Linked DNA regions of Homo sapiens: regions 1, 3, 4 and 5 are each reported to be linked to region 2. Evidence: microRNA targets listed by miRTarBase, many of them from high-throughput screens and not tested one by one. Region 2 holds a microRNA gene; each other region holds the end of a gene's coding sequence.
What was found. The annotated mature microRNA hsa-miR-1279 reads UCAUAUUGCUUCUUUCU and lies in region 2 at 2,620-2,636, opposite strand. An mRNA with a match to its seed (bases 2 to 7 or 8) in the 3' UTR can be bound and repressed. Matches are read on the target gene's strand: a 7mer-m8 pairs with bases 2 to 8, a 7mer-A1 pairs with bases 2 to 7 and ends in A, and an 8mer does both.

Region 1 (6,233 bases), not on the chromosome of region 2:
TTATTATATTTACTGAAGCTGAACATTCTGGCATCAACACACTTTAGTTTATCTCAAACTAAATTTCCAAATAGCATGCCATTTTAGTTCATGTTGAACTAACTTTCCAAAAGTTGTATGATTTTTATTTAATGATTTGCATAATTTAACTGTAATAGGTGTTTAAGGAAAAATATAGTTTACCTGTCATCATTTTGATGAGACGAGAAAGAAATAATATAGATATCACTGGAGGGTAAATCTATTGACCTATTAGGAATTCTTAAGAGAAATTCAATAGTTTTACTATGTTCAACAGGAGAAATAATCTAAAAAGAGATTTTTAGAAAGCCAAACTGACAAAAGAATGTCATAAAACAATCTTCATAATTGCTATCATAAATTTCCTCCCAATTTAACAAGAAGAGATGAAAATATATTTCTGATGTAATAGAAATGTACCGTATTCTGACAAAAGTATTCCAGCCAACTGCTTTGAGAGCTCAAGCTTCAATGTCCACACTTATTTTCCAGCAGAAAACAAAAGGCTGGAATTAAGTGAGGCAAAAATGGTTGATGATCTTCAACTGCAGGCCACCTGGACTCTGTAATGAATTCATAATTATTACAGTTCACTCAGTCTGAGGCTGGATTCACATCAGAGGAAAAAAAAGAAGTATGGTTTGCCACTTCCACCTTCTTAAAGGTAACAAGTTTTATGAATAATGCTTATCATTATAATGTGACTTGAAATCTCTGAAATCCTAATATCTTAATAGTCTCAATTTTCAGATTCGGAAAATCAGATGATTAATGGAGTTTCTATGTGATAAACTGTGCTACCCATATATTTGGGTAAAAACTGGTCCTTGGATTTATTCCAAGTTTTTTGGAGAAGATGTTTTCCCCGTTGATTAATAAACCAGAACTACTTTTAATATTTAATAGGAATTTGTGTTAGTTGTAACAATGTGTGTATTGGATCCAAAACATGTTATATTTTAAGCAATGGCTTGGAGAGAACTAATCAATTCATATTCTGCATTTCCAGCCAAAGGGACATAGGCACAACTGACTGGTGGCACCTTCCTGTGGGAAGCCTCTTCCATCCATCTACAGCATTGATACCTTGAAATGAAACAGAAAACATGAAACTACTATGTTAACCATAAACACGCAAAACAAACCAACTCATTTCATAATCTGTTTCAATAATATCCCTCATTCAAAACTGTTTACTATGCTAGCAGGCTCAGTAGACGTGCTCTTGAATATGGAACTCTACATCAATACTGCTCAAACTTTAATATGCATATACGAAAGGATCCTATTAAAATGCAAAAAAAAAAATTGCAGACTCTGATTCAGTAGGTCTAGGATAAGGCCTAAGATTCTGCATTTCTATTAATCTTCCAGGTCATGACAATGTTGCTGGTTTGGGGCTTCAATGTGAGTGGCAGGGTTCTATGTTGTTAGTTCTGCATTCATCTGAGGCTGAATGGAGTTTAGGAGTGGCAACTGAGTCAGGAAGGACATTTAGGGAAATGATTTTGAAACTTCATGTGCATAGAAGCACAGCTTTGTTTTGTTTTGTTTTGTTTTTTGAGACAGGGCCTCACTCTGTCACCCAGGCTGGAGTGCAGTGATGCGATCTCCATCTCAGCTTACTGGAAATTCCGCCTCCCTGGCTCAAGTCATCCTCTCATCCTCCCACCTCAGCCTCTGGAGTGGCTGGGACCACAGGCACATGCCACCACACCCAGCTAATTTTTTTTCTTTTTGTATTTTTGGTAGAGACGGGGTTTCACCATGTTGCTCAGGCTGGTCTTCAACTCCTTAGCTCAAGCAATCTGCTTGCCTTGGCCTCCGCAAGTGCTGAAATTACAAGTGTGAGCCACCACGCCTGGCCAGCATTTTTTATTTATACCATATGATAGGAAAGGTTGGTAAGCTAAATTTAATTTACTTTTTAGTACTAACTATGGGTTTAGGCACATTATAACCATCTGGAAACTGCTGAACAAACAAATATTTTATAAAAAGGTGACATCATTTACTATTGTAGTTCAAAAATAGGAGAAAAAATATGAAGTGTTTTTTTTCTGTTTTTTTTTTTTTTTTTTTTTTTTTTAGAGTCTTGCTCTGTCACCCAAGCTCCCAGGCTGGAGTGCAATGGCACGATTTTGGCTCACTGCAACCTCTGCCTTCTGGGTTCAAGCAATTCTCCTGCCTCAGCCTCCTGAGTAGGTGGGATTACAGGTGCGCCACACCACATCCGTCTAATTTTTGTATTTTTAGTAGAGATGGGGTTTCACCTTGTTGGTTAGGCTGGTCTTGAGCTCCTGACATTGTGATCCACCCATCTCAGCCTCCCAAAGTGCTGGGATTACCAGGCGTGAGCCACCGCGCCCGGCCAATATGAAGATATTTAATATAAATTAGGCACATCAGTATCAAACTATTATTTGATATAAATACAACTGGAATGAATTGCAAATCTGAGATGTAAAGCAGGAAAAAATTATTTTTAAAAGTCTAGTTTCTATTAGCTACTTTAGGGAAAGTTTAAGAAAACAAAACATGTTACTGCAACTGGTTGTATCGATAGAATAGAAAACATGACATCAGAAAATCGGGTATTTTTAGATCTATAGCGCTGATTCATGCTGCCATTTTGTGATTATGCCTAATCATGCCATATTTGAATTAATAAAATCAAGTTTCTGTCAGATTTTTAATTTCAATGTTTTAATTTTGTCACTTATCCATCAAATGTTGAGAAACTACTATGTGTCTGGCATTGTGCAAGGTGTTGGAGATAAATAACCACAATACTGGTATTGTCAAAATACTGGGAAGTCTCGATGGCTTTTATATAATATTACCATGTAAATATGTAAAACACTTAACACACAGAAAAATTCCTAATAGCACTGACCTTAAAAACAATGGTTATTGCAACTGATGATTTCAAAATATTGAAAAAAATCCTGTGAAATTCTATGTCTTACAGAACTATGTTCTGTATATTTTATTTGTGGTATTGGCTGGTAGTGACTCATATTTGCTATAGCTATACTCTAAAATTACATTCATAGTTACATTCTAAAATTATTTTCAGAAATTTAATAATGTCTTTGCTATTTAATCAAATTCAGATGAAATTTTCACTATTTTAACCAGTTATAGTCAGTCTGACCTACTGTAGCAACAGGTATTCAGAGCTGATCCTGCTCTTCCCAAAATCAGATACTAGTCAGCTGGCAAATTGCCAGGTCAGCATTTTGCTGACAATACATGGCTAACTTACCAAAACCAGAACAGACAAATAAAAACAGATATCCATGAACTTTGATGCAAATCATTTTGTTTTACAAGTGAATCTCTTGCTTTTCATAGACTTTAGGATTCTAGATTGCCGTTATGTAAAGAGAGAGTTATCTTGCTATCTTTAATATTCAGCTCGGTAAACTGTTTATTATATAGTTGTTTGTTCCAAAGGGGTTCCTTATTGTAGCTTTTTATTGACTGCAGGCTTACAAACAGATCATATTTTAAAGAAACTGATTTGGAACTGCAGGTTTAAAAAAAAATAAGGCTTAAAGAAAATGATTTGGAACACCTATTATTTTAAGGTTAACACATGCTATAAGGCCCTACTATGACCCAAAAATGGGAATGACAGTGTGCTAATGAGTACATTAATGAGATATAATTATATTGCACTTCGACTTAGAGTTTCCTAATGGATGGTCAAGGATATGACCACTGTATATTCTGAAAGATGAAGAAAAATTAAAAATAATTATTCTAACTTCCTATAAAATGACAAGATAATTTTTACATATAGTTCAGTATTTTAGGATTGATCCCTACCACTTAATGCATTAATATAAAATGACTCTTGTTCATCAACTTATTTATATAATTAATCAAGTTAACACAAATACCAGCTAATACTGAAGCTAGGTCTGCACTCAGAAGCCCCAGCATGGCTAATGCAATCTCACAAGTCAGGTAAAAGATCTTCTATATGAATCACTCACAAATTATTAAAAATGTTTATGGAAACTATTTGCCCTAATAAAATTAGAAGACTGTTAAAAATATAAAACAATAAAGGGAAAATTATCGTACTTTTATAAAGTATGAATTTATCTTGCTTGAAGAGTTAAGTCTCATTTTCCATGGTTAATGCAGGATTGCTCATACCTTAATGAAAGCACATAAGTTAGCATTTTTGGTTGCTTTTGAACAAATAGGCAGAAACTTCTTATTCATCTATGAATAAGGAATCCCTTGGTAGACTTCCAAAGGTGCCTTGTACATAATAAGGGTATATATAAGATGGTGATATAGAAACACACACACACCCGTTATACAGTGTCAGTTACAACCACTATCTCTCTCCCACACACACAAAACACTAAAAACAGAAATAGACATCTGAGGAAGTAGAGAAACATAATAATGAAAGATATATTGACCCACACTGCTCACATCAGCTTACATCAACGTTTCCAAATTCTTCCTCTACCAACCTCATTCTAGTCAAACCAATCTTTGAGCACTTTCTCACCTCATTTTTCTTGCTTCTTTTCCTTCCTATACATCATCCTTTACACTTTAAGTAGTTCTTCATTTCATCCAACTAACAAAAAAATTAATCGAACATGCCGAAGAATTATAATAGCATGTGAAAATCAAGAAACCACTGCTATTTTAACATAAATTATGTAAGATGAAATGTGAATCCCTTCTGGATGAAGAGGAATTCTTTGTTTTTCCACGTCTCAACAATTGACCCCCAACTATTTATCACTTCTCTGCCTCTAACGAAAATGATGGATTCAAAGAACAAATCAGTGTCATCAACTTTTGTTTAGGCAATGCCTAGTCCTTGCCATAGATTAGAAAGTGAAATGGCATGTGTGAAGGTCAAGAGAGTGACCAAATTATGAATAGTCAAATAATGGGACCCTCTGGGAGGCAAATATATTTCTTAAAGATAAGGCTAAAGAAAGCTTCTATTTTAGGAGAAGATGACTGATAATATATTAAATAATGACTAGAATATTTACTCAGGATCATCCATTTGTTTTTCGCTACCACTAAATCCCAGAGGTTTCTTCAAACTCTCGTACTACCTGACTTTGGTTCATTACACTTTAAAACGTTGACTGGTTTATTTGAAAAGACTAGAAACGAAGGAGAAAAGGTTAGTAGTCAATCTGAAGATTTTCTGGCTAATAACGCCTTAATCACAGATGTATGGCTTTAACTCCTTTATGTGGACAACACACATATATACACACACATGCATGTATGATCACCCTATTTTGTCTACTCCTTATCAATATTGAGAAATAGGTAGTCTTTTGAAAAGAACAAAGCTAAGTCTAAAAGATGTTAGGTAACGTGACACATATCACACCCTACTAGGAGCCCAAATTAGGGTTTTTAAATCAGGTCTGACTTCGGAGCCTTGCTTGTTCCTTGCTAACAAACTACACTGACTGAAGAAAACAAAAGATTGAAATCAACAACAGTAACAAGAGGAATGTGAGTGGGATATGAAGAAATCGCAGGCAGCTGAACTTATGGTACACAGTAACTTTACTCAGACATTTTGAAATTGGACAGAAATCTTGGAGTAAAAGATAGAACTGAATAATTTAAGGTCCTTTTCAGTAGATATTTATCTTCTATCTGATTTGATTGTAGTTTTTTCATTTTTATACTTTATATTTTGAATTTACTTCTATCATTTTATTTGAGGAATGGTGATAAAGATTTGGTTCTTTAAACAGAAAAAAGGCAATGCAGATCCATCTTTCACAAAATGATTTTCTGCTGCTAACAGGTTATTAACGAACCTCATAAATAGTTCTTTGAAAATAATTCTGAATTTAGAATAGAAGTCTGACTCCAAACTAAGAAAACATCTGTAGGTAGTATAATGGATTTTTTTTAACCACGTTTACCTTCTAAAAATAAAATATGTCAAAAAACAGCCAAACAAGCACACCCTTACCAGCTTTGCATTTTCCTGGGTTTATGCTGCTCTCCGTCCAAGACTGAGAATCAGTAAGAAGGTGGCTCTGGGACTCTCTCAATGGCTTTGCAGGAAACTGATGGTTTTCGAGACTGAATAATAATTGAATAATCATCAAAATCATCATAAGCTAATTTTTGATAGTAAAGTTGATTGTTTCTCAATGTATGGAACCAAAACCACTTGCAATGCAAGATGA
Region 2 (6,233 bases):
TTGAAGGATGTGATGTTCATTAACATTCGGTTGTATTCCCCAGTATTTGTAATGGGAAATTACAGATAAACCGTGTCTGCACAGTTTAAGGAATACTATGTATATTCATGCACCGTATTGATTCATGCTATAGTTACTTAATCAAAGATTTTTTTCAAACCTGCCTTACATATAGGCCCACTTTAAAAGCACCTGACTAGCATGTGTTCTTGATTGCAAAATTGGCAGAGGCAGGGTGTCAACTTGATTAGGTGTTTTTATGGGAATGTAATTTGAAATCACTACTTCAGAAATTTGACTTAAAATTCTTGAGCACGTTAATATGTTTTTAAGATCTGATTATCTTTGAGAGATCTTCTGTTAATACACATTGGTTGTTAAAGAGTACCCAAATTCTAGGACAATGCTTAAAGTGTTAAAATACCCTAGATACTGTGTTATGTGCAACTGTAGAAACCCTCCAGAAATTTCCACTGCTGTTCTTCACTTTCATCTTGTCTGCTATCAAACCACTTCTGACAAAATTAGCTGTTTTGAATTACCCATATCACTGCCAGTTTTATTTTAAAATATTTTGTGTTTGAAGTATCTGTGCATGGGATCGTTGATGTTTATCAGAACTGTTCACTTTCAGAAATGATTTTTTAAAGCATTTTGTTGAAAATGCGGTTGCTTTTTTAACATTATTTTAGAGTTGTATCAAAATTTTCCTGTTTTCTGTATATTGTTGTGTCATTTCTTGGCTTTTTAATATTTTGACTACAATGCCCTAATGCGAAGAAGTATGGACATATAAATATTACAAGAGAAATTAGTTAATAGTAAAGGGTTAAAAGGTAAGTAAAATGTCCATGAAAATAAAATTTTCTTTGAACAGTTTAAAAATGGAATCACAAAAATCTAACTGCACTTGAAATGAAACTGGAAATTTTATACTAATTAAATCCTTTATTTACCTTTTCATATTTTATCAATGGAACCTTTTAATTGCTCCTTCTATATCACTCTTCTCCTTGCTTGGCTGATCTCATTACATGACTTTCGTTACAGACAGTGTGAGTGTACTAGATTTGTTTGCTGCTAATCCGTTATTTTAAGTGTTGTCAGAAGGAAATAACTTCTTGGTTTGACCAAGTAATTTTGCAAAGTCCTTCTCTACCTGATAACACGTGAATGTATAGCAGTAAAGGTGAAAATTGCAGGCCTTGTTTTGTTCTTCATACCCCCTTCAGTTGTTTATGGGTTAATGTTATTTGAAAACTCTTCCTTTTTTTAATGTGTAAAAACAATCCAAAGAGATAAATCCTTGCATAGACACCAAAAACAGTGTCTCAGAGACCTTTTCATTTTTTCCTTAGTTAATAACTGTAGTGGATGTGAAAACAAACGAGTTGAATTTTAAAACATAGCATTTATTAGTGCTATACAGTCACATTCCTTTCAGCCAGTAGTAAAGTTAAACAGATGAGTGATACAGTACCTGAATGGTACTGCTTCTGAGGCAACACTTTGGATTGAAAGTGCTGCTTTTGGTTAAAGGAACTATGTTGTGGAAAGCATATTCCAGTGTAAATTTGCAGATGTGTGTTTTTTTTTTTTGTCACTTTTCATAAGGTTTGGAGTAAGTTGCAGTGGCTTTTGATCATAGTTTAGCCCATTTAATGGTCCTTTTACCTAGAATGTTCTTAAGCAGTTAATGACAATTTGGAATACACAGATAACTTGTAGCTTAAGATACTATTTTCATTTAATTCTCCTGTGGAGAATATTGCTTTATTTTTTACTAGTTTCAGGTCAGTTATTAAAATAAACATGGAGGTTTTAATGAATGTTGTATAATATTTTATAGTGAAGGAAAATTGTGGAAAGGGCAAAGACTTTCTCTTTCCCTTATGTATTTAACTGTGCCAATCTAAATACATACTGTTTTATACAATGAGATGCATTACAAGACTTTTCTGTTGGAGTGCTCTCGACATTTTGGTTTTCATACCTGAATGATCATTGCATTTTCTGTATTTTCTAAAATGGCTCCAATTTTGTGTTTTAAGCTTCAGCTTAAGAGGAAGTTTATGTTCTAATTCTTGACTGAGAATACAGTATTGAGATTCTCTGTTTTACAGATAACAACTGGTTTTTATTACTCATTAAGTTCATTTGCATCCCGTAGCCCTCTGTAAATGTTTCCCCTAGTTGTATGTACGTAAATGCACGCTTATCCAGTGTATATTAGACATTTTTGTGCTAAAATATATTAAGTGGGATTTTTGTAGCAAAGCATTCTATTTTTCTGTTCTTACAGTGTGTGTGTGTGTGTGTGTGTGTGTGTATGCGTTTTTTTAACCTTAACTTCAGTTTAAACACTGGTGTATTTATTTTTTTAAGCAACTTGACTCTTAGAAGCCTTAGACTGATTTTTTCAATAAATATTCAACCAAAAATTATAAATTTATTAAGATGTGGCCTTACATATGGCATTCCTTGTGTTCGTAATGTGAGATTTTTGATTTAGATAAATCAAGATTCAGGATTAAAGTTTCATTGTAAGTTGAAATAGAAAATGTATTAAAATGTCTAGGCTTCTGGGAGGAAGTTCTTATACTCTTCTTTCTTGGCATTAGAAAGAAGCAATATGAATTTTTGTGAATATTCTAAATATTCAGGCAACACTGTTCAGATTGATTTAGGTTTGTCTTAACCAATGTTCTTTTTTTAGAATTTCAGGTTGTGGCATTCACTGAGTATGCAGCTACTATGGTTTTTGTATGGGACGTATAAATACTTGATTATATACGACAGATTTTAATGTCTTTAAAGACTTCCTGCTGTATTAACATATTGTAATGGAGTCTTTTAAATACTAGGTTGAATTTAATTGAAGTCACACACATCTTGAAGTGGTAACTGCATAGTAAATACTACCAAGAGTTTTTTTCACGTGGGAGTATCCTAAAACTCTGCCATGGGTGTAAATGTTTTACATTAATTTCATAATTGGACAGACCCTGCATTTAGCGAAAACATTTTGTTTTGAAAGTGTGTTCTTTTTGTCGCACTGTTACTGCGTAACACTTCTCAACATTCTGTAAGTTAAATTATTTTAAAATAACTATGGTGAATTCATGTTTATTTTTTTACTTTGAAAATTGTAGTACTCAGGTGGTATTTAATGGGAAAGGATCCTTTGGGTATAAATCATAATGTATTTTAAGGAATGCATCTATAACATTGATAACTTTAGCCTTAAAAAAAAGGTCTATTATTCCTTCCTCTGCATCCCATGGTATATTAGCAAAGTAGTTTACAGCCCTGTACAGCCTTACAAAGTTGTTTTACAATTTTTAATGGAAAGCCCTTAACAACAACAACAAAAAATTGTATCATTTTACCAATATCCACGAATTACTGATCACAGTTTGTAAATAATTTGTTTAATATCAGAAGGCCAAAGAAAGTCTTAAAATTTTAGCTATTGACTCTATGGTGACTTCACAATAAGATTTCTGTGCAAAAAGGTAAGGTGATAATTGATCTAATAGACTTTTTTTTTTTTTTTTTTGCTGTCCATGAGAATTAGACTTCATATTAGCTTCAATTAAAAAGCTCATTCCATTTTATTAAAATGTTTGTAATTGCAATTTTGTGTTTAATGTTTACTTTGTCTTTCCTTTCTTTAGCATTTAGGTGACTGTTCGGCAGTTTGATATATGGCCATTGTCGGCCTTAAACTGCACTAGTAACAAGCATGGTATTTATCTTGTATTGAAAATAAAACAAACTTTTGATAAGACTTTGCAGTTTGTCTTTTTTGTTTAATTTGTTATTTGGTAACCATTGTGTATGGTTTTAAGTAGTTAATGTTTATTGGCAATATGCAGTATAGCAGAAATTGGACTGTTGTCTGTATTCTATCTTTAAGCCAGATAGTGGTGGTTTTCTTGTGTATTGACATTTTGGTGCTCTTTAAAGCGACTGATAATTGGGCTAAAATTAGGATTAAGAGGCCTGACAGATTTCCAGGCTGTTACATGGTTTTTAAATGGAAGATTCAGAAAGCATTTGTCTAGTTTTAGAGGATCATTAACCTTACTAGACTTAAGTAAAAATGTTTGTAGCAAAAATATTTTACTGGTTAGCTTGGAAACATTATGGGGTACTTTTGAAACAGTAACAGACTTCAGTTTCAGTGATTTCAGTAGATATTTCTGTGCCAGGTATTAATATCAGGCCTCAGATTTCTTACCTGCAAGCTTCAGAGTATTAAAGGTAACAGTTCTAAACAAGTGAATATGAACATGAGAAATAATACTACCATCACTGGGATCCCTTTCCATGCCTCCACTAAAATTGTGGTTCAGATTTTTGTTAGATTTCCTGTTACTGTTTGTTGTATGTTTCCATTGATCAATCCCTATTTGTGTTGAATTAGTTGAGACTCTCGTCCCTACCCTGTGAGGTCATTTAACTTTAAGAGAAGATCATTAGGAATATTTTTTGGCCAGATGCCACACTACATATGACTCAGTTCAAGACCTAATTTAGTGAAAGAGAGAAGCTTTTTTTTTACAAAAGATTTATGGACAGACTTTTCCCAGTCTTCCTAGTTTTGTTTCAGAGCCATTACCATGAAACAATAATTATTAGAAATGATTTCCAATGATGTTGTTGGTCTTTTTCTCCCATTTATAGTTCATTAACAGTTCTTGGATTTTCGTGTGGTACATCAGTTCTGATAAACTATTGTCAGTTCCAGATAAATGATATATACTTTACCTTTCAAAAATCTATATTCATTTTATAGAAAAACTTTAAAAAATGAAATTTACTACTTTAATGTTATACTGAGATCTGTAGGAAAAAAATGGTGAATGGGAAAGGGAAGTACCTTTTAGGCAGAGACTTGCAAAAAGGGCTTTTGGCAAGAGGAGCATGCTAGTAGGAACTGAAAGAATGCCAGTTTGGCTGAAGCAGGGAGTGAAGAACATAGCCTATGTGTGGAGCTCAAGCAGTTGGCAAGGCTAGGCTCTCCGGAGCTTGTAGGTCACATTAAAGATTGTCCTAAGAGTCATGTGGAATCATTGAATTGTGTGAAGTGTCATAATCAACATTTCAAAAAGCTTCTTGGCTGCAGATTAAATTGATAAAAGAATAGATAAAAGAGAAACACCTCTTCCTGTCAGGAGAGAAGATAAGGGTAGATAAAAATAGAAGTTTGTGGGCTGTAGGTGTGTGGTAGAAATTTTAAGATGTCATATTTAGTGACTTATGTTTTCTTTGAAATAGAAATTGAGGGCATTGTGGTGTGGGCATGGCTTAGTTTAGAAGTAACAGTGTTTATCTGTGAGATTGTCAGGGTTTGCTATCTAAGATAAGGCTCCCATTTTTATGGTGGCAGTCCATCTAGTAACACATTCATCCCCTGGGAGAGGGTAGATGGATCAAGCTATGGGACGGAGAAGGCAGTAATTGTCTTCATCAGTTTTCACTTTAACGGTTGTCAACCCAGCTGAAGAACACAATCACCGATGCTGTCCTGTTGTTTTTTAGGGGATTGCTATTAACATTTTATTTTTTGAGACAGTCTCGCTCTCTCACCCAAGCTGGAGTGCAGTGGCGCATTCTTGGCTCACTGCAACCTGTGCCTTCCAGGTTCAAGTGATTCTTCAGCCTCAGCATCCCGAGTAGCTGAGACTATAGGTGTGAGCCATCACACCCGGCCAATTTTTTTTTATTATTTTTATTTATTTATTTATTTATTTATTTTTTGTAGTTTTAGTAGAGACGGTTTTTCACCACGTTGGCCAAGCTGGTCTCGAACTTCTGGGCTCAAGTGATGAGTCTGGCTTTGCCTCCCAAAGTGCTAGGATTACAGGCGTGAGCCACTGTGCCTGGTCAACCATCAACATTTTTTAAAAATTGTTTTTGTACCTATTGCTTCATTAGTTTCTTAATTATCCTATAAGACAGTTAGTATTCTTTTTTTGTTTTTCTTTTTTTGAGACAAGATCTTGCTGTCATTCAGGCTGCAGCGCAGTAGTGTGATCATGGCTCACTGCAGCCTACCCCGGGCTCCTGAGTAGCTGGGATCACAGGTGCATGCCACCATGCCTGGCTAACTTTTTTATATTTTTGGTAGGCATGGGGTTTTGCCATATTGTCCAGGCTGGTCTCAAACTCTTGGGGTCAAGCAATCTTCCTGCCTTGGCCTCCCAAAGTGTTGGGATTATAGGCAT
Region 3 (6,233 bases), not on the chromosome of region 2:
ATTTATTCATGCCAGTCTGTTGCATGCAGGCTTTTTGGCTTCCTACCTTGCAACAAAATAATTGCACCAACTCCTTAGTGCCGATTCCGCCCACAGAGAGTCCTGGAGCCACAGTCTTTTTTGCTTTGCATTGTAGGAGAGGGACTAAGTGCTAGAGACTATGTCGCTTTCCTGAGCTACCGAGAGCGCTCGTGAACTGGAATCAACTGCTTCAGGGAAAAAGAAAAAAAAAAAAAAAAGACTTGCCTGGGAGGCCGCGAGAAACTTGCATTGGAAGCTTCAGCAACCAGCATTCGAGAAACTCCTCTCTACTTTAGCACGGTCTCCAGACTCAGCCGAGAGACAGCAAACTGCAGCGCGGTGAGAGAGCGAGAGAGAGGGAGAGAGAGACTCTCCAGCCTGGGAACTATAACTCCTCTGCGAGAGGCGGAGAACTCCTTCCCCAAATCTTTTGGGGACTTTTCTCTCTTTACCCACCTCCGCCCCTGCGAGGAGTTGAGGGGCCAGTTCGGCCGCCGCGCGCGTCTTCCCGTTCGGCGTGTGCTTGGCCCGGGGAACCGGGAGGGCCCGGCGATCGCGCGGCGGCCGCCGCGAGGGTGTGAGCGCGCGTGGGCGCCCGCCGAGCCGAGGCCATGGTGCAGCAAACCAACAATGCCGAGAACACGGAAGCGCTGCTGGCCGGCGAGAGCTCGGACTCGGGCGCCGGCCTCGAGCTGGGAATCGCCTCCTCCCCCACGCCCGGCTCCACCGCCTCCACGGGCGGCAAGGCCGACGACCCGAGCTGGTGCAAGACCCCGAGTGGGCACATCAAGCGACCCATGAACGCCTTCATGGTGTGGTCGCAGATCGAGCGGCGCAAGATCATGGAGCAGTCGCCCGACATGCACAACGCCGAGATCTCCAAGCGGCTGGGCAAACGCTGGAAGCTGCTCAAAGACAGCGACAAGATCCCTTTCATTCGAGAGGCGGAGCGGCTGCGCCTCAAGCACATGGCTGACTACCCCGACTACAAGTACCGGCCCAGGAAGAAGGTGAAGTCCGGCAACGCCAACTCCAGCTCCTCGGCCGCCGCCTCCTCCAAGCCGGGGGAGAAGGGAGACAAGGTCGGTGGCAGTGGCGGGGGCGGCCATGGGGGCGGCGGCGGCGGCGGGAGCAGCAACGCGGGGGGAGGAGGCGGCGGTGCGAGTGGCGGCGGCGCCAACTCCAAACCGGCGCAGAAAAAGAGCTGCGGCTCCAAAGTGGCGGGCGGCGCGGGCGGTGGGGTTAGCAAACCGCACGCCAAGCTCATCCTGGCAGGCGGCGGCGGCGGCGGGAAAGCAGCGGCTGCCGCCGCCGCCTCCTTCGCCGCCGAACAGGCGGGGGCCGCCGCCCTGCTGCCCCTGGGCGCCGCCGCCGACCACCACTCGCTGTACAAGGCGCGGACTCCCAGCGCCTCGGCCTCCGCCTCCTCGGCAGCCTCGGCCTCCGCAGCGCTCGCGGCCCCGGGCAAGCACCTGGCGGAGAAGAAGGTGAAGCGCGTCTACCTGTTCGGCGGCCTGGGCACGTCGTCGTCGCCCGTGGGCGGCGTGGGCGCGGGAGCCGACCCCAGCGACCCCCTGGGCCTGTACGAGGAGGAGGGCGCGGGCTGCTCGCCCGACGCGCCCAGCCTGAGCGGCCGCAGCAGCGCCGCCTCGTCCCCCGCCGCCGGCCGCTCGCCCGCCGACCACCGCGGCTACGCCAGCCTGCGCGCCGCCTCGCCCGCCCCGTCCAGCGCGCCCTCGCACGCGTCCTCCTCGGCCTCGTCCCACTCCTCCTCTTCCTCCTCCTCGGGCTCCTCGTCCTCCGACGACGAGTTCGAAGACGACCTGCTCGACCTGAACCCCAGCTCAAACTTTGAGAGCATGTCCCTGGGCAGCTTCAGTTCGTCGTCGGCGCTCGACCGGGACCTGGATTTTAACTTCGAGCCCGGCTCCGGCTCGCACTTCGAGTTCCCGGACTACTGCACGCCCGAGGTGAGCGAGATGATCTCGGGAGACTGGCTCGAGTCCAGCATCTCCAACCTGGTTTTCACCTACTGAAGGGCGCGCAGGCAGGGAGAAGGGCCGGGGGGGGTAGGAGAGGAGAAAAAAAAAGTGAAAAAAAGAAACGAAAAGGACAGACGAAGAGTTTAAAGAGAAAAGGGAAAAAAGAAAGAAAAAGTAAGCAGGGCTGGCTTCGCCCGCGTTCTCGTCGTCGGATCAAGGAGCGCGGCGGCGTTTTGGACCCGCGCTCCCATCCCCCACCTTCCCGGGCCGGGGACCCACTCTGCCCAGCCGGAGGGACGCGGAGGAGGAAGAGGGTAGACAGGGGCGACCTGTGATTGTTGTTATTGATGTTGTTGTTGATGGCAAAAAAAAAAAAGCGACTTCGAGTTTGCTCCCCTTTGCTTGAAGAGACCCCCTCCCCCTTCCAACGAGCTTCCGGACTTGTCTGCACCCCCAGCAAGAAGGCGAGTTAGTTTTCTAGAGACTTGAAGGAGTCTCCCCCTTCCTGCATCACCACCTTGGTTTTGTTTTATTTTGCTTCTTGGTCAAGAAAGGAGGGGAGAACCCAGCGCACCCCTCCCCCCCTTTTTTTAAACGCGTGATGAAGACAGAAGGCTCCGGGGTGACGAATTTGGCCGATGGCAGATGTTTTGGGGGAACGCCGGGACTGAGAGACTCCACGCAGGCGAATTCCCGTTTGGGGCTTTTTTTTCCTCCCTCTTTTCCCCTTGCCCCCTCTGCAGCCGGAGGAGGAGATGTTGAGGGGAGGAGGCCAGCCAGTGTGACCGGCGCTAGGAAATGACCCGAGAACCCCGTTGGAAGCGCAGCAGCGGGAGCTAGGGGCGGGGGCGGAGGAGGACACGAACTGGAAGGGGGTTCACGGTCAAACTGAAATGGATTTGCACGTTGGGGAGCTGGCGGCGGCGGCTGCTGGGCCTCCGCCTTCTTTTCTACGTGAAATCAGTGAGGTGAGACTTCCCAGACCCCGGAGGCGTGGAGGAGAGGAGACTGTTTGATGTGGTACAGGGGCAGTCAGTGGAGGGCGAGTGGTTTCGGAAAAAAAAAAAGAAAAAAAGAAAAAAAAAGAAAAAAAAAAGATTTTTTTCTTCTCTTAATCGGAATCGTGATGGTGTTGGATTATTTCAATGGTGGGGTTAATATAGCATGTTATCCTGTCTATCTTTTAAAGATTTCTGTATAAGACTGTTGAGCAGTTTTTAAAATAGTGTAGGATAATATAAAAAGCAGATAGATGGCGCTATGTTTGATTCCTACAACGAAATTATCACCAGCTTTTTTTCATTCTTAACTCTTTAAAGGATTCAAACGCAACTCAAATCTGTGCTGGACTTTAAAAAAACAATTCAGGACCAAATTTTTTCTCAGTGTGTGTGTTTATTCCTTATAGGTGTAAATGAGAAGACGTGTTTTTTTCCTTCACCGATGCTCCATCCTCGTATTTCTTTTTCCTTGTAAATGTAATCAGATGCCATTTTATATGTGGACGTATTTATACTGGCCAAACATATTTTTTCTTTTGTCCCTTTTTTTCTTTCCTTTCTTTTTACTTCCTTTATTTCTTTATTCCTTCCTTTTCCTTTTTTTCTTTTTTTTTTCTTTTTTTTTTTTTTTTTTTGGTAGTTGTTGTTACCCACGCCATTTTACGTCTCCTTCACTGAAGGGCTAGAGTTTTAACTTTTAATTTTTTATATTTAAATGTAGACTTTTGACACTTTTAAAAAACAAAAAAAGACAAGAGAGATGAAAACGTTTGATTATTTTCTCAGTGTATTTTTGTAAAAAATATATAAAGGGGGTGTTAATCGGTGTAAATCGCTGTTTGGATTTCCTGATTTTATAACAGGGCGGCTGGTTAATATCTCACACAGTTTAAAAAATCAGCCCCTAATTTCTCCATGTTTACACTTCAATCTGCAGGCTTCTTAAAGTGACAGTATCCCTTAACCTGCCACCAGTGTCCACCCTCCGGCCCCCGTCTTGTAAAAAGGGGAGGAGAATTAGCCAAACACTGTAAGCTTTTAAGAAAAACAAAGTTTTAAACGAAATACTGCTCTGTCCAGAGGCTTTAAAACTGGTGCAATTACAGCAAAAAGGGATTCTGTAGCTTTAACTTGTAAACCACATCTTTTTTGCACTTTTTTTATAAGCAAAAACGTGCCGTTTAAACCACTGGATCTATCTAAATGCCGATTTGAGTTCGCGACACTATGTACTGCGTTTTTCATTCTTGTATTTGACTATTTAATCCTTTCTACTTGTCGCTAAATATAATTGTTTTAGTCTTATGGCATGATGATAGCATATGTGTTCAGGTTTATAGCTGTTGTGTTTAAAAATTGAAAAAAGTGGAAAACATCTTTGTACATTTAAGTCTGTATTATAATAAGCAAAAAGATTGTGTGTATGTATGTTTAATATAACATGACAGGCACTAGGACGTCTGCCTTTTTAAGGCAGTTCCGTTAAGGGTTTTTGTTTTTAAACTTTTTTTTGCCATCCATCCTGTGCAATATGCCGTGTAGAATATTTGTCTTAAAATTCAAGGCCACAAAAACAATGTTTGGGGGAAAAAAAAGAAAAAATCATGCCAGCTAATCATGTCAAGTTCACTGCCTGTCAGATTGTTGATATATACCTTCTGTAAATAACTTTTTTTGAGAAGGAAATAAAATCAGCTGGAACTGAACCCTAAATCTTGACTTTTGTCGTTATTATGCCCAATGCCTAAGATTGGAAAGGCCCTACAGTATCTGGACACTACACAATCTGCCTTAGCTTTAAAAAAATAAGTTCTCAGAGGAGTCTTGTCAAATGCTACCTTATCGAGGAACATTAAATGTCTCTTGGCCAGATTTCCTCTGACCCTGAAAATGATGGCATCAGCTGAATATGTGTCAACTCAACACATGCTTTCTAGGAATTTTCTGAGTTTACCATATTTAAAAACGCCCTTTGTCTTGGAATCTGAAAGAGGGGGAGGGGCAACGTGGACAGAATTCTTCACAGATGAAACTGGCTAGATGATCTTTTTTTCAAGTTGGTGCTCCTGGAGCTGCTTTCTCCTTGATTTGCCCATGCTTACCTCCAGCAGTGGCTGTAATTGGTTTTCGTGGGTTAAGGACAAATAAACTGTTATTATCAGTAGATTATACAGGAGGAGGCTTTTACCGATTATGAAATGCAAAACGTATGCATTTATGCATTTTTTTTCTCAAGCAGAAAGGTTGATGTGCTACAATCTTCATTTTTTGCCATGCCCAACATGGTGTTAATGTAAGAGAACTGCAGCAATAAGGATGACCTGGAGAAGCTGGCTGCATGTGGGCTCAGAGGAAAGCCCCCTCTCCAAATAGCACTTACTTTGGCTGCTGGAGATTTGTGCTTTTTCTAAGAATCAGGAAGGATTGTTGAGACTGCAAGGTGAAAAAGTACTTGGATTTCTTAAGGCCCATTACTCTTGGGTTTGGAACATACAACTTGCTAAGTGGCACTATTTCCTGTTTATTTTGAGAGTTAACAATTGCTATTAACTAACAAAAGCCATCTTCCAAATGTTAATTAAAAATGTGTCTTTTACTTGTCTTGAGTTTTTCAGCACTGGAGAGGAGGGGTTAACAAGCAGAAGTGTTTGGAAATTATCCCTTAGTCATTTGGATTGCTTGTAGATAAGGGAGTAGTATCCTGGAAGGTACATCTGGAAAAAGAGACCTTTTGAAGACTAGTCTAACAGGAGGGGGTTTTGTGGTTGTCCAACGAAAAGCAATAATGCACCCCCAAAAACCAGTATAACTTGTGTTTCAATATAATTTATCTCTTAAAGATAGCTACTAGTTTTCAACATTTTTTTCATGTGTGGTGCTCATATATTTAGTTTTAATTGCATTTGCGTTCTGCAATTGGAATTCCATTTTTTAAAATGACCTTAGAACAACATGGCATCTAAGTTTCTTCAAAGATCTTTGTAAAAGGAAGAACTCTTCTTTAGAAAAGTGCTTTTAATTTTTGTTCATTGCAGTGATAATATAATGGTTTAGCTTTTTTCAGATCCAAGGTATCAATACCATGACATAAATGAAGCCTTAAATGATGCCTTTTTTAAATGATGCATCTCTTTTAAAGCATATTTTTATTTCGGAGGGTTCTCCTGTTAGAACTGTTTCTTTTCCCTTGACTCTCTATGTAAAAGCAGATGTTTTAAATATTTCCTTT
Region 4 (6,233 bases), not on the chromosome of region 2:
GAATGTTAAATTTACTTGGTTCAAACATCAAAAGGGATAAATTTAAGGTAAAGTGAGGCCGGGCGCAGTGGCTCACGCCTGTAATCCCAGCACTTTGGGAGGTCAAGGTGGGTGGATCAAAAGGTCAGGAGATCAAGACCATCCTGGCTAACACGGTGAGATCCTGTCTCTACTAAAAATACAAAAAAATTAGCTGGGCCTGGTGGCGGGTGCCTGTAGTCCCGGCCACTCGGCAGGCTGAGGCAGGAGAATGGCGTGAACCCTGAAGGCGGAGTTTGCAGTGAGCCGAGATAGCGCCACTGCACTCCAGCCTGGGCGACAGAGCAAGACTCCGTCTCAAAAAAAAAAAAAGGTAAAGTGAAAACTCCCCTTCCCATTCCATCATTTTCTCATTCCTTTCCATGGCTAGTCAGAATTATTAGTGTTTTGTACATCTTCCCAACTTCCTTCCTTCCTTCCTTCCTTCCTTCCTTCCTTCCTTCCTTCCTTCCTTCCTTCCTCCCTCCCTCCCTCCCTCCCTCCCTTCTGCCCTTCTTGTCTTTCTTTTCTTTCTGTCATCAAGGTCTTACTCTGTTGCTCAGGCTGGAGTACACTGGTGCAATCATAGCTCACTGCAGCCTCCTGGGCTCAAGGGACCCTCCCACCTCAACCCCCTGAGTAGCTGGGGCTACAGAGGTGCGCCACCACAAGGTAATTACAATTTTTTTTAAAAAATAGAGATAGGGTCTCACTATGTTGCCCAGGCTGGTCTTGAACTCCTGGCCTCAAGTGATCCTCCCACCTTGGCCTCCCAAAGTGCTGGGCATGAACCACCGTGCCCTGCATTCCCACTTTTTTGATGCATAAGTAAGCAAATAGGAATGTAAATTCTTATTCCCCCCCCTTTCTTTCTTTTTCTTTTTTTTTGAGACAGAGTCTTGCTCTGTCGCCCAGGCTGGAGTGCAACGGTGCGATCTCAGCTCACTGCAACTTCCGCCTCCTGGGTTCAAGCAATTCTCCTGCCTCAGCCTCCCTATTAGCTGGGATTACGGGCACGTACCACCAAGCCCGACTAATTTTTGTATTTTTAGTAGAGACAGGGTTTCACCATGTTGGCCAGGCTGGTCTTGAACTCCTGACCTCAGGTGATCCGCCCGCCTCGGCCTCCCAAAGTGCTGGGATTACAGGCGTGAGACATTGTGCCTGGCCTATTTCCTGCTCTTTCTATACAAATTGTAGTATCCAGTATCCGGTGTTCCACACCTTGCTTTTCCTCATTTTCCATTGTACCTTGGAGACATTCCATATAAGTTTATTGAGTCCTTTCTTGTTCTTTTTTTTTTTTTCTTTTACAGCTGCATGATATTCCCTGGACCTTAAGATAGATAACCAGTACCCTATTGATTAGCATTTAGGGTTTTTCCAATCCTTTATTTTTATAAACAATGCTGCAATTATATAGCATCACATGTATGCTGCTGCCCATACATGCAAGTATATCTGTAGGATGTTTCTAGAACAGGAATTGCTGGAGCAAAGCAGAAATTTTGGTAGATAATGTCACATTGCCCTTGATAGGGATTTTAATAATACACATTCCCACTAACCATTCCTCTGCCTCCCTCAGCTTCAGTAGCGGAGTGGGTTATGAGGCTTCCAGGTTTCGACAAGCTCATAGGTGAAAAATGGCATGCCAGCCAAATTTTAATTTTAATTTCTTTTGCAACTGTGGTTGAATAGATGTGTAAGAGCCATTTCTGTTTGCATTTCAAACTTTTTCTTTTCCTTTCTTTCTTTTCTTTCTTTCTTTTTTTTTTGAGACAGAGTCTCGCTGTGTCACCCAGCTGGAGTGCAGTGGCATGATCTCGGCTCACTGCAACATCCACCTCCCAGGTTCAAGCGATTCTCCTGCCTCAGCCTCCCGAGTAGCTGGGATTACAGGCGTGCGCCACCATGCCCGGCTAATTTTTTGTATTTTTAGTAGAGATGGGGTTTCACCATACTGGCCAGGCTGGTCTCGAACTCCTGACCTCGTGATCCACCTGCCTCGGCCTCCCAAAGTGCTGGGATTACAGGAGTGAGACACCGCATCAAACTTTTTCACCTAAAGTGAATTGTCCTTCAAGTCCAGGCTCGGAGCTTCCCACATAAATTGCAGAGTCTCTGGAATCTTTGAGAAAATATATACCTTTATTTTAAAAATAGCTTTTGGCATTCTCTGACAATAAAAGGAGTTGCAGCTACAGGTCACCATTGAACATACAAAAACACTGAGAGTATGTTGAAAGAAACTTTTGGCAAATACGACAGAATCTGAAAAGACTAGAACCAGGTTCCCAGAAATTCATGACACTGTTTAAAACAGCCTGGCTGAGGTTAAAAGAGACTCATTGGAGTCTTTGCAAATTTAACATTATTTTTATTCCTATAATAAATATTTTCCCCATGGAATCCATCTGTATCCCTCCCCTCCAATAGCACCTGTGCTCTTCTGTAATTTTTTTTTTTTTTTAGACAGAGTCTCGCTCTGTCACCCAGGCTGGAGTGCAGTGGCGCGATCTCGGCTCACTGCAACCTCCGCCTCCCGGGTTCAAGCGAATCTTCTGTCTCTCCCAGGTAGCTGGGATTACAGGCACGTGCCACCACTCCTGGCTAATTTTTGTATTTTTAGTAGAGACGCGGTTTCACCATATTGGCCAGGCTGGTCTCGAACTCCTGACCTTGTGATCCACCCACCTCGGCCTCCCAAAGTGCTGGGATTACAGACATGAGCCACCGTGCCTGGCCACTTCTGTAATCTTGAAATGAGCACAGAGAAGCCCACAAGTGCTTTTAAAGCAGCCCTCTCTATGTCCCAAATATCCCCTGTAGTGGGGCCCAATTCCCCAGCGGTCCCCAAATGACCAGCACTGCAGGCATTTAGGAACTAGATAAAACGTAGACTGCTATTTCTTCCCTCCCCACCAAGACAGCAAATTGCCCAGAGGGGTATAGGTTGAGGGAGGTTGGGGGCTCAGCTGTGGGCACAGCTGGGTGCAGACCACCACTTAGTTGAGATAATTGCTGGAGGTTTTTGTTGTTTTCCATTGAAAGGTGTTGGTTGACTTACGGACCTCAATAAACAGCCAATAGCTATCCCCGAATGACTCAGGCTAGACCCAACCTGAGGCTCTTCACAGTCCAACGTGGGGGCCCCAGGCAAAGAGACCTTGAGGAGCAGCTGAGGGCACCTGGGCCTCAGCATTTCTCGGTTGAGATGGCGGCGTCCCTGACAAGCACAGCTGTTTTCCTCCCCACCCTTCCTCACCCAGCCCAGCCTGGCAATCCACCTAGGAAACTGGCCCAGCTGGTGTGGCCTCTAAATGAGTGGCTGGGTCATGAGGAGGAGGACTAGCTGGGAGGGAGGCGGGAGCCCCCAGGGGTTCGTTTGCCCACATAGTTCTCAGCTGACTCAAGGCTCGCCTGTCAGGCTTCCCCTCCACTCCCTGCCACCCTTGAGAACCCCAGGACTCAAAGTTTGGATCCCTCCTTTGGCCTGGAGGGCTCAGGGAGACCTCTGGCTCCGTTCGTGGGGCACTCTGCTGGGGTGGCCTCTATCAACCAACCCCTGTCTCTGGATCTGGCCTCAGCTCTGCAGGAAGAACAGTTTCTGTTCATTCTCCCAGAAATTCTGGGGCAGCCTCTGAGATCAGCTTCTCCTTCAGGGAAGCCCTTCTAAGCTGGCAGGTTGGGGACAGGGAGGGTTAGGGGATGGGGTGCTGTGGTGGAGGTCGGGGGTGAGTGCTGAGATTCTGGGCGCCCCTTCTGTCTGTTCCCGAGGGCAAGCCGCAAATCCTGGGTGGGAATTCTGGCCTGGAGGATCCTGCCATCGGCCAGCCCAGCAGGACGTCTGCCTGCAGGACTTTCTTGTCCCTGGAGGGGCCCACCTGGCTTTGGGCAGGTCACCTGGCAGGTAAGGTCTGCCGCTCAGGGCTGGTGAGCCTGCAGGAGGGCAGTGACCACCCATCTTCCCAGCCTAGAGGAAGGGGAACGCATCTGCTGAGGATTCACGTGGGGAACACGCGCCGCGCGCATGGAGTCAGCTCCAGCCTCTCTGTCGAGCGGAAGCCCCTGCGGGGGTCGGGGAAGCCCAAGGCCCTCTCTGTGCCCAGGTCCTCCCCTCTGCCTGCCCGCGTGCCCCTCGGAGCTTGGTGGCACCAGGGCTGCCGTGGGCCTCCTGTCCCACCCCAGGCCACGGCTAGCCCGGCGGCCTCCCTGAGGTGCGGCTCACGCCTGCTTCCTCACCAGCAGCACCCAGGGCAGGATGGCGGCCACCACGGCCACCACAGCGATGAGCGTGATGAGCAGCAGGGCCCGCGATCGGCAGCAGAAGGCGCGGGCGGAGCGGGGCGCCAGGGAGGCCTCCGAGAGCTCTGCCAGGCTGCGGCGGGGCAGCACGCTGTCCTGCTCCCCCAGGGGCATCCCGTGGCGGCTGATGACAAAGATCTGTGACTCCCGGGGCAGGCTGGGCAGCAGGTCCAGGGGGAGCTGGGCGCTCTGGCCCGGGCTGCCTGGCGGCCTGGCCTGGCCTGGAGGTGGCCTCCAGGCAGGGGAGGAGGCGGCCAGGGGGTTTGTGTGGCCCAGGCTGTCCAGTGGGGGCACGGAGGGCAGGCCCACGGGCACAGCCAGCGTCTGGGAGCTCTTGTCCAGCATGGAGGGCCAGCGGGAGCTCTTCTTGCTGAGGAATGTGACGTAGCGGCAGATGGGGCAGACCAGGGTCCTCTGGACCTGCCCATCCACGCGGGTGGACAGCAGGTACTTGACCAGGCAGTCATGGCAGAACACATGGCCACAGCTCAGCGTCCGGCTGGCGCCCTCCAGGTCCCGGAACTTCTCATAGCACACGGGGCACTCACTGCCCGAGCTGTCCTTGCTCTCCCCTTCTGACATGGCCACTGGGAGATGGCACGCTCAGCTGTGGACGGGAAGGGTTGTGAATATTGGGGCATTTCCTCTTTCCCTCCCCCGTCCTAACTCCCACCTACACCTCTGCCTCCACTGCCCCTTATCCCCTCTCCCTGTCTTCTGCCTCCTCTCTCTTCCTCCTACTCTTGGCTCTTCTGCTGCTCCTCCTCTATGGCCCACCTGACTCAAACCTAGAACCCAGACCCTTAGGAGGAGAGGAGCAGATGCTTCTGGAAGGGAGAATCGGGAGACAGAGAACCAGAGAACCCAGTCACACTGGACCCCAGGAGGAGGTGTGTGGAGTTCCTGATGTCTCACCTCAATCATCATGTACACACATGGTGAGGTCACTGCCTCACCTCTTCCTGCTTCAGTGACGGAAGTGAAGAAAGGAAGTCCCTGTTACCAGGGGAAGCAGGTGGCTAAGAAGATGCATGCACAGCCCCAGTCCAGTCTCCAATTTGGACCTGCACCCAGAGTGGCCATTTTCCAGAAAAGCCCGTGCTAGTCTCAACCTCTGCCCTCACCTGGGGTTGGCGGGTCCATTGGATTTCCTCCAGCCATTGGATTGCATTCCTCTGTGCTAAGTGTGGCTATAAAGCAATGACTGTTTAAAAAAACAAAGCTTAGAACTTACACATTCAAATGCCTGCTGGCCCTCCACATAGTCACGTCAGGGAGCTTTAGGTTCATTCCCTCACCTGCCACAGCTCAGTCATTCTCCAAATTCTTCTTATGGGGCTGCCTGAGGCAGTGAGAGAAGCATCTGATTAACCGTGATGGAGACAGAATTTCATCCTTTGAGAATATGTCTGATACTTTGGAAATGCCCAGAAGTCACTGGTAGCCAAGTCTGATAGGAAAGTAAATGAGTGATCAAGTGGCATGATATTGTTTGAAATCAAAGCTATGGAGTAGCAAGATATAAAGTAACAAGATATATAAAGTAACAAGATGGTTTGTTTTTTTTTTTTTTTTTGAGAGGGAGTTTTGCTCTGTCGCCCAGTCAGGAGTGCAGTGGCGCAACCTCAGCTCACTGCAACTTCCACCTCCTGGGTTCAAGAGATTCTCCTGTCTCAGCCTCCCAAATAGCTGGCATTACAGGTGCATGCCACCACCCATGGCTAATTTTTGTAATTTTAGTAGAGACAGAGTTTCACCATGTTGGCCAGGCTGGTCTTGAACTCCTGACCTCCGGTGATCCGCCCGCCTCGGCTGGCCTCCCAAAGTGCTGGGATTACAGACGCAAGCCAAGGCGCTGGCCACAAGATGGGTTTTAAACAGAATCTGAGAGCAGATTTGTTTGATTA
Region 5 (6,233 bases), not on the chromosome of region 2:
GTATTTACAAAACAGAGTGTAGGTGAAGAAAAGGAAATTTCAGTGACAAATTAGGAGGCACTTAAGAAATACTGGACGTTTTCAATTAATTTGGCAAAATGAAAAGTAATAGATACATTTCCTTGGTTGTGGCTGTGATGGGTAGAGACAGTGGTGCTGAACCTCGCTCACACATGTGAAAGCTTGTCTGCTCCAGAAGTAGAAGAGAGCCTTCCAGTTGCTAAGGCTCTGTCCAGGGCCGGGCTCCTGCCAGGTGGCAGGCAGAGGCTTCCTCAAGCCCTGCGTCCCTCTTCTGGGTTCAGAGACCACTCCCAGGCTTGGTTCTATCAGCACACTCCATGCATACAGGTGCAGAATGCTCTCCCCGGCCACCCGAGACCACACCTCAGCCAGGACCTTGTGCAGAGCTTGCTTGGGCCAAGGTACACGATCCAGGAAAGCTGAGCTCAAGAAAAATGAATCCAATGCTGGATGTGGTGACTCGTGCCTATAATCCCAGCTAATTAGGAGGCTGAGGTGGGAGGATTGCCTGAGCCCAAGAGTTCGAGGCTGTGTTGAGCCATGATTGCACCACCGCACTCCAGCTTGGGTGACAAAGGGCCATGTTTCTTAAAAAGAAAAAAAAAAAAAAAAGAAAGGAGGGAGAAATTAATTCCCTGTCTGATGAAGAACTGGTCTATGGGTCCCAGAGGATCTCAAACATTTCCCCTTCTGTACCTTTCCTCGTCCTGTTGCCTCCGCCTGGAATGCCTGTTTTAATTAACGGGTGAGGATGGCCACGTACTTTATCCAAACTAGGGCACTTTGAGAGTGAAAGAGGGTTATGCCAGGACAACAGGCAGAAGCCAGGACCGTCCAGGGCAAACCAAGGCTGCCTCCACTCCACGCATCAGTTCCGTCCTCTGGGGAAGGCGCTGTCCACTTCCCACTGCCATCTTCCCTAAGAAGACCTGCCGTCCCCTGAGCATAGGGACCATTCCACCTCATGTGTTGTCATTGGGTTACCTGTCTCATCCTCCTCACTGGATCACGGACTTCTCAAAATCAGGGACCAGGTCAAGGGGCTTGGTATTCAGGAGGTGCTTATGAAATTCTCATGAGATTGAGGAATTCCCACAGACTGAAAGTCAAAGGTAAAGCTGGATCATGCATGAGGCCTCATCTAGGTACCAAGGGCCTTGTGAGAGATGTCAGGAAGGCATTTCCTGAAGCACTCGTTACTTTCTCTTCTACCCCTGACCCTCCTGCACAAAGCTCAGCATGTTGATATCCTGGAAAATACATGTGTGGACAAACATATTTAGAGTTCCAAGTGTCCAGAACCTTCCGGGAATTCTAGCCAGCACAGGTAGCAAAATACCTTCCACCCAGCATTGTGGGGAGCATCTCCAAACAGTGAATGTATCTGGAGTTCAGAACCGTGACTTTCTGATTCATTTCTAATTCAAATCCTCCCAGATTGATGTCTTCCCATTAAGACCCTACTCTATGGTAATTGCTTTACTAGGAACAGCGTTGAGATATTCTTGAGCTGACACTTTCCCCTCCTGTTTTCCAGGATCAGTACAAGTTCTGCTACGAGGTGGCCCTGGAATACTTGAATTCTGGCTGATGGTGTAAACAGCTCTGCAAACAATCCCTTTCATACCACAAAGCCAAGACGTTCCATGGTATTTGTGCAAAAGAGATGAAGACTTCTCAATATGCTTATTTTGCTTTGCATAATTGGCTCTTTTTAAGAGCCCAAGAAAGTGTTTCTAAAATTGCTTGCACTGCCCAATCCCAGTAATGCTGCTGCCTGACAGAAACACACACACAGCCACAGTTGCCAAATCCCGTACTCCTTGCCACCGGCTTCCTAGAGCAGCGTAGACAGCTGGTAAACTGAAGAGCACAACTATATTCTTATGAAGGAATTTGTACCTTTGGGGTATTATTTTGTGGCCCGTGACCCTCGTTATTGTTACAGCTGAGTGTATGTTTTTGTTCTGTGGAGAATGCTATCTGGCATTATGGTAATATATTATTTTAGGTAATATTTGTACTTTAACATGTTGCATAATATATGCTTATGTAGCTTTCCAGGACTAACAGATAAATGTGTAATGAACAAAGATATGTTGTATGAGTCGTCGTTTCTGTCAGATTTGTATTGTTTCCAAGGGAAAAGCTTGGGGGAGGACTCAGTTCACAAAATGCAAAACTCAACGATCAGATTCACGGACCCAGAGCTTTTCCATGTGTTTATATTGTAAATATTTTTGATTTCATCAAATTATTTATTCATTAAAAGAAATTTTTGTGAAGCACAGTGAGTGACAATCATTTTTCTTAAGGCCTGGAAACGATTTTCTGTATGATGTTACTTTATGTGAATTCTCATCTCAATAAATGATGACCCGTGAGCAGCCGTGGCATGTTCCTGGTGTCCCAGTGCACAGGCGGTGGAGGCCGCACCCGACACGCCAGCACACAGGGGGAGAGAGTGCGGCCGGGGCCTGTTTGCCGGAGCAAGTAGAGTAGAGTTTTTTTGAGAGAGAGTGTTCGTCAGTGAGAGCACTGAGCCCTTCACGGTGGCCTGCCCTGGTGCCGGGGAGGCTCAGCCATGAGCCTGCACCATGGGGCGTGAGCCCTGACCTTGTGGGGCAGCCAGGCCAGGGGCCATGGCAGAGACTTGCTAACTGGAGCATCGTCTTCCTTTCTCTGTTTCCCCTCAGTCTGCGGGGGATAATATCTCTCTTCTCTATGCCTCAGGCCAACCTAAGACTTGCTGAGAGAACAGTTTTTAAAGGGTTAGAGAATCAGAGTGCATTGAAGGACACCGAGCTGAACAAGTTCCCACCAGAGCACCTGCTCTGCGCCACCCTGGGCTCTGGCCGCTGACACAGAAGGCAGGTGCACGGTGGCCTTGCAGCTTGCATTTAGCTTGGGTTTTAGGCTGTGTTAACGATTGCCAAGAGCTGACAGAGGCAAAGCTCTGTCGAACACCTCTTGTGAACCAGATACCATGCAGAGCATCTTCCTGTGTGGTAGCACGTGCTCCCCAAACATGAGCCAGGTACAACTGCGAAACCCACCTGACAGATGAAGAAACTCAAGCTAGAAAAGATTAAATAACCCGTCCAAAGTCACACTGGCTAGCAAGTGCCAGAAGCCTCCAGAGCCCATGGGAGGTGGAAGGGCAGCACCCTCACCATGGCAGAGGAGCAGAGTCTGCTAGTGCCGAGACAGAGACTGGCCCGCCACCCGCTGTGGGAAGTGGAGAGGCTTGAGGGCACTGTTCCTGCCTGCTCTGGGGATCTTGGTGACCAAAGACTTCAAGGGCAGAGGTTGCCCTCCAAGAGGACTGACCTGGACATCTGCGTGTTAGACCTTTACTGCTTCGCTGTACCCTGAGCAATCTATATGCCCCGATTGGTGTAAGTTTCTCTAGACCCCTCCTTAAACTGGGTGGGTGGGACCCTGTCCTCCCCCAGGAAGAGCTGGCTGCAGCGGAGCTTCGAGTCTGTACTCAATGCCTCACATTCAGACTCCTCCTGGAGGATGGCCCCTCGCCATCCCACCCAGTTCTCTTTGCTAAGCTCCTAAGAGACTAGCAGGCTGCTATTTTTGTCTGTCCCTCTTCCAAATGATTTCTCCAGGATATAGGAATAGGGATGAAGACATATGGACCGCTGCACCCTTTGCGGGTGAGCTGGGCCCTGACCAGGGGAGTGTGGTGAAGCCCTTGGCCCTCCGTGATCATGGCGGCGTGGCTCTGGGCTCCAGTCCGTCAGCATGGGTGAAAAGACGGCTCATCTGAGCATGGCGAGGAAGTGACCTCAGATGTGTGAGTCTAATGACACCGCCACTTCCCAGTCATTCCCTGCGTCGTCATACCCCGGTCTCACATGGGAGCCAGTTGTTTTCAATCTCTTGGATTTTTATCTTTCTTTCACTTATTTCACCTTTTAGCGGAAACAGTGATAGAAAAAAAAAGGCACAGGCATTTTGTGGCTTTTTCAGATTTCCCACGAGGCCTCACAGCATGGTTGAGACCTGTTATTTCCAGTACACTGAGAAAGTCTCTGCCCCTCGCAAGCAAGAGAAGCCACCCTCTTGGCTGAGAGTCCTTCTCTGTCTTCTCGCAGTGCTCTGGGTTCCCCTCTGTTGTGGCATCCGGAACCCCCCAGACACTTCAAAGCCTGTGACTGCTCTGGAAGCTGATGGTCCTGCCCCTGGCACGGTCCCCCTCTAAGTCAGCTTCACAGCAGCACCTCATGATGCTTTTGTAACGTGTCAGCACAGCAAGACTGAGGTGTGTTTCCAGAATTCCATTCTCTGTATATTTCCAGATGGGGTGCGCTGCAGGGGTCATTTGGTGTAAGACGTAGAGGCAGAAGGGAAACAGCAGCCACATTGTTTTTACACTCAGAAAGTGGAGCAGCTGTGGGCCCCGCAGGTGAATAACAATGGTGTGAGCTCCTCCACCTCTCTCCTAAGGGCCCTCCTAGCCTCTGCTCACTGGGTCAAAACTCATGCCTGCATTTTTAGGTTTTGTTAAGGTATCCTAGTGCCAGGACTAAAACGTGCATTAGTTACCTTCTGCTGAATAACAAATTGTCCCCAAAGTTGGAAACTTAACAATGAACATTTATTATCTCATACCATTTCTGTGGGTCAGAAGTTCAGAAATGATTTAGTTGGATGATTCTGGCTCAAAGATCGCTCGTGAGGTGGCCATCAAAATGGGTCAGGGCCGCAGTCATCTGAGAGCTTGACTGGAGCTGGAAATAAACTTCTAAGGTAGCTCAGTCACAGGCCTGGCAAAGTGCAACTGGCTGTTGATGGGAGGCCCCAGTTTCCCCCCATGTGGGCCTTTCCACAGCTGCTTAACTGTCCCCACAGCATGGCACTGGCTTCTTCCAGGGATTCAGAATGGAACAAGGCAGAAGCCACAATTTCTTGTATGATCTGGCCTTGGAAATTATATACTGTCATTGCCACAATATCCTATAGTTTCAAAAGTCAGTCCTATTCACTATGTGAGGGGACTGCACAAATACCAGGGCGTGGGGATCATTGGAGCCATCTGGGAGGTTGGCCACCACCTGCTGGCCAGCTGCAGACCTCCCACATCAGCCAGCACCTCAGCATCTGCAGGCTGGTTGGCTGGAGCTTAGCAAATCTCATCCCTGGAACATGTGGCTTGCCAGTCAAGGCTCCTCCCATATACCATCCCCTCTGTCCTACTATGCGTTTTCATCCTAACACCTTCTACTGCGACAGTGCTCCAAGTCGTTTGTAGTATGCCCTAAGGAAACATTATTCCATTGTAAATAAACTTGATTAACACAGGCTTGATTAACGAGGCTGTCTTTCCCCGAACTCCACGGAAATGCTCCCTCTGAAACTTTCTCAAATAGAGGTAAGTCATTCTTTCATGTCTCAAAGATTTAATCAATTTCAACAACCACCCTCATACTCCACTTGAGCTGATGGTCACACCCTGCAGCCTGTCACCTTGAACTGCCTGACCTCTGAAATCTTGAATAAACATGCCACATTCTGACTCCAGCCTCTTCAACTGCTAGCTTTATCTTTGCCTTATTCTTTTATTCTTGTTCTTTGTATTTATGAAAACCTTCAGCCCAATCCTGAGTGCTGCACCCTTTCTTACCTTTTCCACAGAACAACCCAAGCCCCATGATGTATCACTTCAACCAGTTTTGCTAACACCCTCTCAATGCCCTTGACACTTCATACTTCCATCATATCCACTCTACAAATGGTTAATTTTAGAGAAACTCTTCCAGGACTTTTGATCTCAGACAAACTAGGGTAACAAAAACCAATCTACCCTCCTAAGTGTAAGAAATAACTGGGAAATATATATATTTTTAAAAATGGTGTGCAAGATACTGGACATCAGGCAATGAAGGATAACAATCTCCAAGAAACAGGAAACAAATTAGGTGACCCCTAGGATTGCCCTAGCTTATGGCCTGAGAGAACTTCTAGAACATGGGTGCAGGGAGGGGGGATCCAGGTGGAGCCACATGGTTTCTCTTATTTGAGGAGATAAGGCTGAAAGTCAAAAAGGCCAAAGTGGCAAAGATCTGCAGGGCAGAGTATGAGACATAGAGCTACGTAGAGAAAGAGTTCTGAAGATCTCAGAATGTCCCCCTCAAGTCTTTAGCTAAGTACTGATCACAACAACCTTGTAAGGACATTACAAAGAAAAAAAAAAACCT

Region 1: the mRNA of ZDHHC2 is a reported target of hsa-miR-1279. Seed matches in the 3' UTR shown: 7mer-A1 at 1,012-1,018.
Region 3: the mRNA of SOX4 is a reported target of hsa-miR-1279. Seed matches in the 3' UTR shown: 7mer-m8 at 4,532-4,538.
Region 4: miRTarBase lists RNF222 as a target of hsa-miR-1279. Seed matches in the 3' UTR shown: 7mer-m8 at 2,668-2,674.
Region 5: the mRNA of PTPRM is a reported target of hsa-miR-1279. Seed matches in the 3' UTR shown: 7mer-m8 at 1,700-1,706.

Annotation. Positions count from the first base shown.
Region 1 is chr8:17,215,130-17,221,362 of GRCh38, reverse strand. ZDHHC2 (zDHHC palmitoyltransferase 2) reads right to left here. Exons shown (of 13, transcript NM_016353.5): 11 at 6,014-6,126; 12 at 4,117-4,191; 13 at 1-1,107. The coding sequence ends at 4,151. Among named protein-coding and RNA genes, the nearest start is that of CNOT7, 29 kb to the left of the region's middle.
Region 2 is chr12:69,270,569-69,276,801 of GRCh38, forward strand. It overlaps MIR1279 (microRNA 1279), which reads right to left and starts at 2,650; the gene lies at 2,589-2,650. It overlaps CPSF6 (cleavage and polyadenylation specific factor 6), which reads left to right. Exons shown (of 10, transcript NM_007007.3): 10 at 1-3,790.
Region 3 is chr6:21,593,903-21,600,135 of GRCh38, forward strand. It overlaps SOX4 (SRY-box transcription factor 4), which reads left to right. Exons shown (of 1, transcript NM_003107.3): 1 at 1-4,717. The coding sequence starts at 633. The coding sequence ends at 2,057. Among named protein-coding and RNA genes, the nearest start is that of SOX4, 3.3 kb to the left of the region's middle. RefSeq lists silencers at 460-639, 1,410-1,499, 1,550-1,599 and an enhancer at 2,410-2,609.
Region 4 is chr17:8,388,554-8,394,786 of GRCh38, forward strand. It overlaps RNF222 (ring finger protein 222), which reads right to left. Exons shown (of 3, transcript NM_001146684.3): 2 at 5,625-5,776; 3 at 2,149-4,933. The coding sequence starts at 4,908. The coding sequence ends at 4,246. Among named protein-coding and RNA genes, the nearest start is that of RNF222, 6.2 kb to the right of the region's middle.
Region 5 is chr18:8,404,551-8,410,783 of GRCh38, forward strand. It overlaps PTPRM (protein tyrosine phosphatase receptor type M), which reads left to right. Exons shown (of 33, transcript NM_001105244.2): 33 at 1,559-2,306. The coding sequence ends at 1,612. Among named protein-coding and RNA genes, the nearest start is that of RAB12, 200 kb to the right of the region's middle. RefSeq lists an enhancer at 2,031-2,675.